Regions from separate parts of the Homo sapiens genome. Here region 1 is linked to region 2. The links come from fine-mapping of genetic effects on gene expression. A gene starts in region 2. The other region holds a variant in brackets. All regions are shown on one strand. Distances are between the middles of the regions. Region 1 overlaps WAKMAR2 (wound and keratinocyte migration associated lncRNA 2). Region 2 holds the start of WAKMAR2 (wound and keratinocyte migration associated lncRNA 2).

Region 1 (5,377 bases), 42 kb after region 2:
AAGCATGAGTAGAAGAGGGGAGACTTCTCTTAGCTGAGGGCCAGGGCAGGAGCCCTTAACCCTGTCTAGGCTTGGAACCACCTGGGAACTTTTCAGTAAGACACCCTCCCAAAGCAGTGATATCAGTCTCTGGGGATGGTGCCTGGGCGTGGGTATTCATGAAATGCAGCAGAGTTGAGAACCACTGGCTTAATAGATGGGCACTGAGGAGAACTCTTTTTATACATTGAGGCCAAACATGTTAGACAACCACGAACACGGCAGTTCTTAAACTTCAGCTGCATCAGAATCACCTAGGCTTGTTCAGACAGATCACTGGGCTCCACCCCCAGAGTTTCTGATTTAGTAGGCCTGTGATAAAGCCAAGAATTTGCATTTTTAACAAGTTCCAGGTGATGCTGACACTGCTGATCTGGGGGACCACACTTTGAGAACCACTGCTTTAACAATAGGAATTTACTTTTGACCTTAAAAACAACTCCCTAACATTGGCAAGCGATTGATAGTGTGCACCCTTGATGATATGATATAATGAGAATGGCACTTTGCCTCTGTGGTCTCCCTCCCATTAAATGCATTAACTCAGTCTAATCATGAGTAAAACATCAGACAAAACCCAATGGAAGGACATTCTACAACATACCTGACCAGTAATCCTCAAAACTATCAAGGTCAGCAAAGCCAAGGAAAGTCTAAGAAACTGCCACAGCTAAGAGGAGCCTAAGGAGACATGACTACTAAATACAATGTGGTATCCTGCATGGAATCCTGGAATAGAAAAAGCACATTAGGGGCAGGGCACGGTGACTCACACCTGTAATCCCAGCACTTTAGGAGGCTGAGGCAAGCAGATCACTTGAGGTAAGGAGTTTGAAACCAGCCTGGCCAAGATGGTGAAACCCCATCTCTGCTAAAAATACGAAAATTAGCTGGGTGTATTGGCGGGCGCCTGTGATCCCAGCTACTTGGGAGGCTGAGGCAGAAGAATCACTTAAACCCAGGAGGTGGAGGCTGCAGTGAGCCGAGATCGTGCCACTGCACTCCAGCCTGGGCAACAGAGTGAGACTCCATCTCAAAAAAGAAAAAGGAAAAAAGACATTAGGGAAAAGCTGAGGAAATAATGTATCAATACTGATTCATTGGTCATGACAAAGGTACCATATTAATGTAATATGTTAACAATAGGGGAAACTCAGTATTAGGTAGGGAGCGCTCTGTACCATTACTGCACTAATTACATTACTGCACTAATTACATTAATTCTGTAATTTTAAAACCATTCTAAGATAAGCAGTTTATTTGAAAAAAAAAAAAAAAAAAAAAAAAAAAAAAGAACTTCCTGACTGCTGAAATACAGACCGTTCCTGATTGTGGTTATGGAGGAGGTGTCTTCAAAAGCATCAAGGAAAAAATATCAAATAATTGTATTTGTTTGACTGAAGACTTATCTGGATACAGGAGGTGAGTTACATAACATACCTTTATCTCTTTTTCTATGTGCTTGTGTGACTCAGATGATTGTGTGACTTTGAAATAATTTTTAAGGGCTATACTTTATATATACATATAGCATATAGATATTATACATAATACAAATATAATATACATATGTATATCAGCATACTTACAGCTGGTATGAAAGATAAGGTAGCTAGCTGATGCCTCTCAGTTTATTAGGATGCAGCCATGCAGTGGGAATACAATTTTAATTAGAAAAGGTACCTGCTGTAATGACTTAATATTCTTGGTAGAAATTTTCAACCTTTTGATTAGGCCTATCTGGAAACCATCACAATGGTGGTCTTTCTTTCTCTCTCTTCTTTTGTTTTGCAGTTCCAAGAGAACCTGCTTCAGGTGGTCTAAATGAAATAGAGTCCAAGTCCCATGCTTACGTAATATTTAGCTGCTGGTTTATAGTTATGGATGACCTTATTTCATTGGCTTCAAGAGTGCATTTCATAAAATTCCTCACTTATTGATTCAGGTTTTTTTGTTTTGTTTTGTTTTGTTTTGTTTTGTTTTTGAGACGAAGTCTTGCTCTGTCGCCCAGGCTGGGGTGCAGTGGCACAATCTCGGCTCACTGCAAGCTCCGCCTCCCGGGTTCACGCCATTCTCCTGCCTCAGCCTCCCGAGTAGCTGGGACTACAGGCACCTGCCACCATGCGGGGCTAATTTTTTGTATTTTTAGTAGAGACCGGGTTTCACCATGTTAGCCAGGATGGTCTCAATCTCCTGTCCTTGTGATCCGCCCGCCTTGGGCTCCCAAAGTGCTGGGATTACAGGCATGAGCCACCGTGCCTGGCCTGATTCAAGTTTGAATATATCCGTGGAGCACTGTGTGCTCACGGCAGATGAGGGTAGAGGTGAGAAGACCCAACAACTCTTTGGATATCCACGTGTTAACCAGCCAGGCATTTACATTGTTTCCCTAACTTGGCTTCAGTTCCCCTCAGCCTTTTGAGTGTTGGTC[G/A]CTGATCGTGGTTATGGAGGAGGTGTCTTCAAAAGCATCAAGGAAAAAATATCAAATATTTTGATATTTGATATCAAATATCAAAATTTGCCATGGTGCCCAGCATGGTTCAAGATCATAAGTGTCAAGCACATCAGGTAAGGAAGATAATAATAATTCAAGGGCAAATGAATTGCCCCATGGACAGTGAATTACAGTATGCTACAATGGATTTGTTTGGACCATTTATCTTTTCTTTTGAATTGACTTAACTGTACATTTGTAGGAGATAAGCAGGAAATCAGAAGCACTCCTAGGGATTGGCACTGGTCTAAATGACAGCCCTAAGGAGGAGCTTAGATACCAGATTCATCCTCCATCCAGGCAGAAGCTCCCCAGGGATAAAACTGCAAGGTTAAATGTGAAACTCAAAATTTGAAGCAAAAGCCTCTCCTCTTCTGCACTTCTTTTCTTCCTAAGTTGAGCAGTAATACTAGAAACAGAGTCAATTGAACCTGAATAGCTCCTCTGGGGTACCAGGCATCATTCTAAGGAACTCGTTTCATCCTCACAGAGGCACAGATGGGGTATGTAACTTGCCAAAGCTCACACTGCTTGGAGTAGAGTCAGGATTCTAATCTGGCTTGTCTGGCTCCAGAGCCCACGTTCTAAACCATTAGGCTCATTCTGCCTCTCTTGGAGAAGACACAAGAAGTCCCAGTCTTGGCTAGCCTGGCTAGTTCCAGAGACCTCCATAGCTAAACAAGGTGTAGAAATAGAATGTCCCGTCACTTAGCTATACTTCTATCCTTCCCACCTTCTACACAACTACCATTACCATTGCCACCAGCAACTGGTAAATATTGATGGAGCTTCTTTTCTTTGCCAGGCACCATAGATACAAAAACTAAAAAAAAAAAAAAAGAGACTGTAATCTTGACCTCAGGAACTACAGAGGAGATAGACATCCAAGCAAATATGCCAACAAAATCCCAAGTGGGGTCTAGTAAGGGCCAAAAAAAAAAAAAAAAAAAAAAAAAAAAAAGAGCTGGTGTAGCCAGATGGGCAGGGACTCACCTTGCTTCAGGGACAAATTTGCAGTGGTGATGAATTCCTTTCATTCTTAGCTTTCCTCCTATTACTTCCCTGATTTATTTTACTTACAAATGACACGTCTAAATGGCAGAGACCTGAAGTTCTCTTGATGGGGTGCTGAGATGTTCAGAAGGGAGGTATCCTGTTTAACCAACAGATCATTTATAGATAAAGAGAGGCTCTAACTTAGCATACAGTTCATCTATTTCCTTCCCCCAAGAAAGAAGGGATATTTACATCTCCTCTATTCCTTCTTCCAGGGCAAGAATCTTCTGTTCCATATGCAACATCTTCTGGCAGCCTTGTCCTTTTTCTGTCCTTGACGACTACAATAACAAACAGCTGTTGCCGAGGCATTGCTGTTGACGTGTTACCTTTGAAACCTCCCTCCTGTTATGGAATAAGCCTCTTCCAGATCATGGCTCATTATCATCTAGTCTGACAAGCAGCCTTGTTGCCACGGAGACCCAAAGGGATCAGGCGTGGCATTTGCCTGCATCATCACCCCCTCCAGGGGAACTATAAGGACTCTTCTGTGCGTCATGCGTGGCTGTCCTGGGACTGGCTGCCACCAGACTTTTCCTGCGGGTAAAACCTAAACAAATGATCAGCTGCAGATAATATCAAGACCTCTGTTTGATATGTTAATAGTGACAGCCAGATTTCCACAATTAACAACGAGGTGGGAAGAAAACACTGTAGTCACCAGACTTGGGAGGAGAGGGTTTGTATTCACATAAACACAACCTCACGTCACTGCTTGCCACCACAAAGGGCTCTGTTCACTGTTTTGTTCTCAAAGATCATCCTTGCGCTCATCCTCTGATCTTGAATTTCTACATAACTTTCTCAGTTTATATGCCCTGTGGCAAGTGCAGCAAGCACTGTTTCCTGTTTCTAAACTTGTAGAAAATCATCCATACATCTTACAGTTGTCAGTTTTAACCAGATAACAGTGGCACTTTGTTGCTGCTTTTTTATCTTTAGCTTAGGTTAACAGGACCCTGGAAGTAAAGTTGTTGATTTATTCAATAGAGTATTCTCAATTAATTTGGCTAGATTTCTACATGATTCAAAATCTAAAAAAGTAGAAATGCATGCTTACATGTCTAAGGCCTGAAAAATTGGTAGTGACATCCCAAAATAAATGAAGGTTTTAAAACAATAAATGATCTCTTTTTTTTTTTTTGCTTCTGTGCTTGGGGAGAAGCAATGAAGGAAACAACAATGTTGCTTTAAGGAGTGAGGACCCCAAAAATAAGAATATATAATTATGACAGATAGGGCATAGGGCGTTGTTCAGAATTGATGGGGCTGGTGCACACACAAACATTTTAATAGTTCTAATACTTTGTGTACACTCTTGCGATGAAGTGATGACTTCATTAATTGATTGAATAATATTTATGCAATGCTACTATGTGCTAGCTATAGAACTAAGCTTAGTCTCTTAAGATCTTAACATTCTGAAACTATTAAAATGTATAATCACCATTTGTAAAAGTAAATATACTAATCTAATAATTTGGAATGTACATTACAGTAAAAAAAAAGCAGGGGAACATCCTGTAAAATGTCACTCAGAGATAACCACCACTTACAGAGTGAAGTATATTCCTGCTTTTTGCGGATAGTGTGTGCGTATATATGTTTAAGCAAAGCTAACAATATACTATTTTTATAATTGGCATTTACTTTTTCTTTTGCTTAACTTTATATCATAACCTCTTTCCCACATCATTACAAACTCTTCATAAATAATCTTACAAATGGTTATGTAATATTTATCTTATTTGTAACACATACTATCTTCTTTTTTTCATCAACACACTG
Region 2 (5,377 bases):
ATCAGAATAAGAAACAGACTAACAATAGGCTAGGCATGGTGGCTCATGCCTTTAATCCTGGCACTTTGGGAGGTCGAGGGAGGAGGATCACTTAAGCTCAGGAGTTTGAGACTAGCCTGGGCAACACGGTGAGACCTAGGTCTCTACGAAAACAAAAAATGAAAAACCGCAAAATAATAATAGAACAATAAATTCTATACTTCTAAGAACAGATATTGGAGCTCAATCATTTTAACTCAACTGCCAATGAAATTTTATCATCACCCTCCAGGTACCAACACAGAGGCAAGTCTGCCTGGCTTTTCACCCTGAAATCTTTAAGCATAATCAACTAGTAGAAGGAATGAAAATCTAGAAGTAGACAAGGAAAGAAGTTTCCACCAGGAGGCCACTCTGGCAAATGAAGGAGGAAAGGTGGCAAAGACCAGCATCTACAACCCATGCCAACAGCGCAGGATGATGCAAATTAACATGATGTAGGATCTCTCCAGTGTGGAACACTGTAAAAAGCCAGCTGTGATTTACTAGCCCTTAGTAGGGTGTCTGGCCACACTTCCTAATTTCCAAGAAGATGAAGAAGTTTTCAGAGCACAAAGACATTCCCTAGGAAATTTCACAGTGATTGTTAATTCCATTCCTGCAACATCTTATTTGCCAGGGCAACTTTCCAGTTAATAAAAATGTTAAACCTATGGAAGAGGGAGGAGAAGAAACCTAGATTTTAGGGTAGCTACTTCTGTGTGGGTCTAGACTCTCAACACCATTGATAAGGTGTTGAGATAATTCTTGTGGCCCACTCAAAGGAGAGAGGTTGGACTAGATGACCCATGGTTTCTCCTGAGGAGTTTTCTGGTGATAGTTTTAGATTGGGATTCTTAATCTGATTGCTGGGAAAGGCATAGTGGGAGTCATTCTCTGGATCAGATGGTGCTCTCTTTTGATGTCAGACGTCCTCTACAGGTGGAATTGGGCAAAATCATAGCAGGATAAAAATAACACATATACCTTTCCTTTGTGGCACAGCAAAAGTCTCTTTCACAATATCATCTATCCGTCCGTCCGTCCGTCCGTCCATCCATCCATCCATCCATCCATCCATCCATCCATCCATCTATCCATCCATCCACCCATCCACCCAACAAGCACTACCTGACCACCTACTGAAGGCCAATCACCATGCTTGATGATGGGACTAAAAGTCAAAGATGACCTTATTCCCTTCCCTGAAATTACACTACCACCTTAGTCTGCAGCTAAGGCAATGGAGTTACAGGTACTGCTCAGATCCCACAGCCATTCAGGGGCAAAGTTTTGCCTAGGAGCCAGGTCTTTCAATACCTGCCCCTTGCAATCCCACAACACCAAACCTGTGGCTACAGTGCCTGCCACAATCAGATGGAAAGAGATGGGCAGTAGGAAGATTTTAAACAAATGAGGTGTTATCTCTTTTTGCTTGCCTGACTCTTTTATTTTTCTCTTCTGAATCTAAAGATTTTTCACCAAAGATCTAAAATAGTGAGAGCTGTAAACCATAGGCAAGACATGCAAATGTCAATATCGGATACGCCAGTGTGATCTCATTGGTAGGGTTAGCCTTGCACAGCCTGTAAAACTGCCTCCTTAGAAATCAAAACCCACTGCCCAGATTTCCAGGTCTTGGACCACTCTACGCTTAAGATTAAAGAACAAATGTTTCAGATACGTTATAAGTGGCAAACAATGCAATATTACCCTTAACTTTTTTTTTTTTAACATTTGTTACCTCACTGTCTTATTTAAAGGTAGTTTCTCAACTTTTGTCACTAGGATTCCACAGAACTTCTCCGTTACTCAAACTCTTCTCCCCCTTGTTTTATTTTTCCACTCTGGGCAGACATTTTTGTCTGCATTGTGGAAATTGATGAATTATTTATCAACAAATACCTCATCCAAATTTGGGGATGTGCCTCTCCAAAAAATCAAAAATAGTACAAAGAATTGAAAAAAAAATCAAAGCAGCACCTTAAACAATGAGAATGAAGCATTCATTGGCTGCTCAATAATCTGGTACATTAAGGTTGCGGTCCAGAAGTCCCTTTAATTAACAATGGTTCTGCCAAAATGCTACCCTGAGACACTTGACCAGACTGGCTTTCCAAGGCAAGAAGATCTGAGGCGAGGAGAACCGAAAACAAAGCGGGCTCAAAAAGAGTTAAGCTCCTTCCTTACTTAATGCCACTGCTTTTCTGAGAGGCCAGGTGGCAGGATGTGGGACGACTCCAGCTGACAAAGACAGTCTAACCGTGGGGTAGGGGCTGGAGCAGGGGCCAGCGACCCACGTCTACATGCATACTTCTCTTACACTGCTGCTACTGGAAAAGCTGAACCCCGCGCCAGGACCCCAGCCCCCTGCAAGGACCCGTGAGCGTCTGGGAAGCTGTCTCTGGGACTGAAGCCCCCCACCTCCGCCGGGCTGGCGGCCACTGCGGTACCCTACGCCCCGTCGGGCTGGTCCTGCACAATTTGGGAAAAAGCCGCAGCGCTTCTGCAAGGTCTACGTGGCCATGAGCATGCAACGCTTGGCTCCAAAAAAGACACGAAAGGAGCAAAGCGCCAACGACCACCCGATCGGAGGGCCCGAGGGGCGCCTCTTCACCAGTCAGCTGCAGCTTAAGTTCCGTGCATTATCTGAAAGGAACAGCTGGCTGGAGGTATCCAGGGCTGTCACTCCAACCTCTGCAGCAGTGACCTCAACTCCCAGCACTTCAAAACCCAGACAGAAACGTCCAACAAACTCCCAGTCCAGGAGCGCTGCAAAACCAACGCCAGGTAGACGGTGCCAGCCCGGGGGTCGCTGCCCAACATGCACCCGCAGCCCTTGACTGCGGTGAGCCCGAGGCAGACGGCACGGGGAGGCGCGGCGGTTACCTCTCCGGGAGGCGCGGCGGTTACCTCTCCGGGAGGCGCGGCGGTTACCTCTCCGGGCCCCGCGATCCTTTCGCAAAGTCCCAAGTCCTGGTCAAGGCAGGAGCGCGCCGCAGGCGGGGGTCGGGGCAGGGACCGGGCGGAGGCGACGCTCCATGGACGCCTGGGGTCGGGCTCGCTCGCTGGCAGGGTCGGCTGGGGGTGTGATCTCTCTTGGCGGCCGCTCTCACCGCTCCGCCCCCGCGGGCTCCAAGCTCGCTTGGCCCGCCACGAAGACTGCAGACTGCGCAGTCTGCTTTGCCCCGTTTCAGTTGTATGCGGGTTGTAGGCCCGGGGATTTCCACGGGACTTTCCAAAGTCACGTGACTCTCTGGGTCGGGCTGCGAAGTGCGTCCAGCCGGCCGCCAGAGGGCGCAGGGGGCGAGGGGCGCGCGCGGCCTCCGCCCGACCGGGCCTGCGGGCCCCGCCCCGCCCCCTTTCCCTGCCCCGCCCCGCTGCCCCGCCCCGCCCGGTCCCTGCAGGCGCCCGGAGAAACTCCCTCGCCCCGCCCCGGGGTGTCCCCGCGTGAGTCACCTGGGCATTTCGGAAGCTGGGGTCACGTCACATCCATGTGGAAATCGCGGTGATGGGAACTGGAAATGAAATAGGTTCTTTTTCGCAGTTGTTTTTCTGCAGAAAATCATCAACTGTGGAGAAGAAGAAGGGAAATAAGAAAGAAAGAAAACCCTAAAAACCACCCTGGCGCCCGGGCCCGCAGGCCTCGGGCCGGCTCTGAAAAGTTTGGGCTGTGCACGTGATGAGCGCGTAGGCGGGAGCCCCAGACAGGACCCGGGCGGGCATTTCGAGAAAAAGCAGCGGTGACAGCCTTTGGTCCCCATCTCCATTGTTCCTGCCAGCTCTGGACCCCAGGCTGCATGAGACGTAGGTCCCAGGGGACACCCGACCCCGTGGCCCCAGTCTTAGGTAAACTTAGGAATCAGAACAACACTCACCCCTATGCCGCGCTTGCTCCATTTCCCCTTGTCTATTTCTGCTCACCAAGCATCCAGCTGACATTGCATTCAAAGCAGCATTTCAGCTTAGAAATCGCTTCTAGTCCATCACGGTGCTTGCCATGTGTCTCCAAGGCTTTATTAGGTGTGTTTTTAGTTGTCCTGATAATCAGTTCACCCCAGGGTGCTGATGGCTGATAATACTGGCGCTTCCCTCCCTACCCCCATGCGTTGCACAGGGAGGGTGAGTCATGTGGAGATGGATGCAGCCCCCTGGGCAGTGGGGGTGCAGGTGCTGTGCAGGGAGGAGTCTTAGGGCGTTTTTACTGTCTTACTGCCCTCTAAGCACGGGACCCTTTGGATCATTTACTAGATTGGCTAAACTAGAACCGGATGGAAATATTCTGTACTATGGTCCCCTTAATTACATTTAAGAATACTTGTCAGGCCATATATCACAGGTTTTTAATTAGAAAAGTATCCTCCTCTCGCCAGTAAGGACTTGCAGAGATGGGGGTGGGGGCTGGATGGAGGGTGGCACTTTTTTGGCAAAAAGAAGTTTGGAGCAGAGTGTCACTAGTGGCCTCTCTGAAGACTGGTCCTCGTCTTTTAAAACCGATGGCTGGAATTTCTTCCAGTTCCAAACCTCTTGTTATTTGTCCTCTCTTCTTGTTCACAAATGTGCTATCAACATTCAAACAATGGATAGTCAGCTATCCATTGTAAATGGACCTTGCTGGAGTCCAGGGCTAGCAGAAATGACAGGGTCTAAAATGACATTTATCAAGTACTTGCTATATGCTTATATATGCTTTTTATATGAAGGTTAAGAAGCTTGAGGCATTTGCCCAGTTTCCACAACCAAAAGGGGCAGAGTCGCCAGTGGCATTAAGCCTGTGTTACTCCAAAGCCCATAATGACCAGTCTTACTAGACCATTCCTCTCAGGAAAGATCCTGTGAGACAGGTACTCTTTTGGTGTCCTGTCTCCCAGCCTCTCAAAACAGCCAAACACGGACCTTAGACAGAATGCGGCTTCAGAGGTAGAAGGGTCTTGGTTTCACCTTCAGGAAACCTCCTGGGTTTCAGTTGAGCTGGCAGAAGAAGATCATGTATCTGAAAGACCCTGCATGGAATGTTAATCCTCACACCACTCTCCTGCTGGTGCTCCTTTGTAAACAGAGTTGGCCTGTTTCCTCTCATCTCTGGCTCCATGACTTCAATCCTCCTGCAGCTTCCACTGCCCCTATCTGGCTCATGTCTTGCTGTCTGGTGTCATGAACTGGGAGTGCAGTAAAGAGGAGTGACAAGCCTGAGGGGCCACGTTCATACCTGCCACTGCCAACTGTCCTGATGTAACTGCTTTGTCATCTTGCCTGCCAGGATTTGTGACAAGGTAATAGCAGTCAGATGCAGGAGTGGTCTATAGCCCTGGATTATGTTCGAACTCCACTTTCCATGATTCTACTGCTGGGCTTGTGA

What was found. PIP is the estimated chance that this variant, and not a neighbour inherited with it, causes the effect.
Region 1: its variant is the best candidate, but not a certain one, in a credible set for the expression of WAKMAR2 in sun-exposed skin (GTEx, PIP 0.62).

Annotation. Positions count from the first base shown.
Region 1 is chr6:137,823,005-137,828,381 of GRCh38, reverse strand. WAKMAR2 (wound and keratinocyte migration associated lncRNA 2) reads left to right here. Exons shown (of 4, transcript NR_049793.1): 4 at 3,805-4,713. Among named protein-coding and RNA genes, the nearest start is that of TNFAIP3, 42 kb to the left of the region's middle. RefSeq lists enhancers at 181-230, 251-380. The variant G/A (reference allele first, on the strand shown) is at 2,471.
Region 2 is chr6:137,865,073-137,870,449 of GRCh38, reverse strand. WAKMAR2 (wound and keratinocyte migration associated lncRNA 2) reads left to right here and starts at 2,217. Exons shown (of 4, transcript NR_049793.1): 1 at 2,217-2,808; 2 at 3,566-3,867; 3 at 5,130-5,291. It overlaps TNFAIP3 (TNF alpha induced protein 3), which reads right to left and starts at 3,191. Exons shown (of 9, transcript NM_001270508.2): 1 at 2,908-3,191. RefSeq lists silencers at 2,645-2,744, 2,885-3,054, 3,295-3,434 and an enhancer at 3,515-3,654.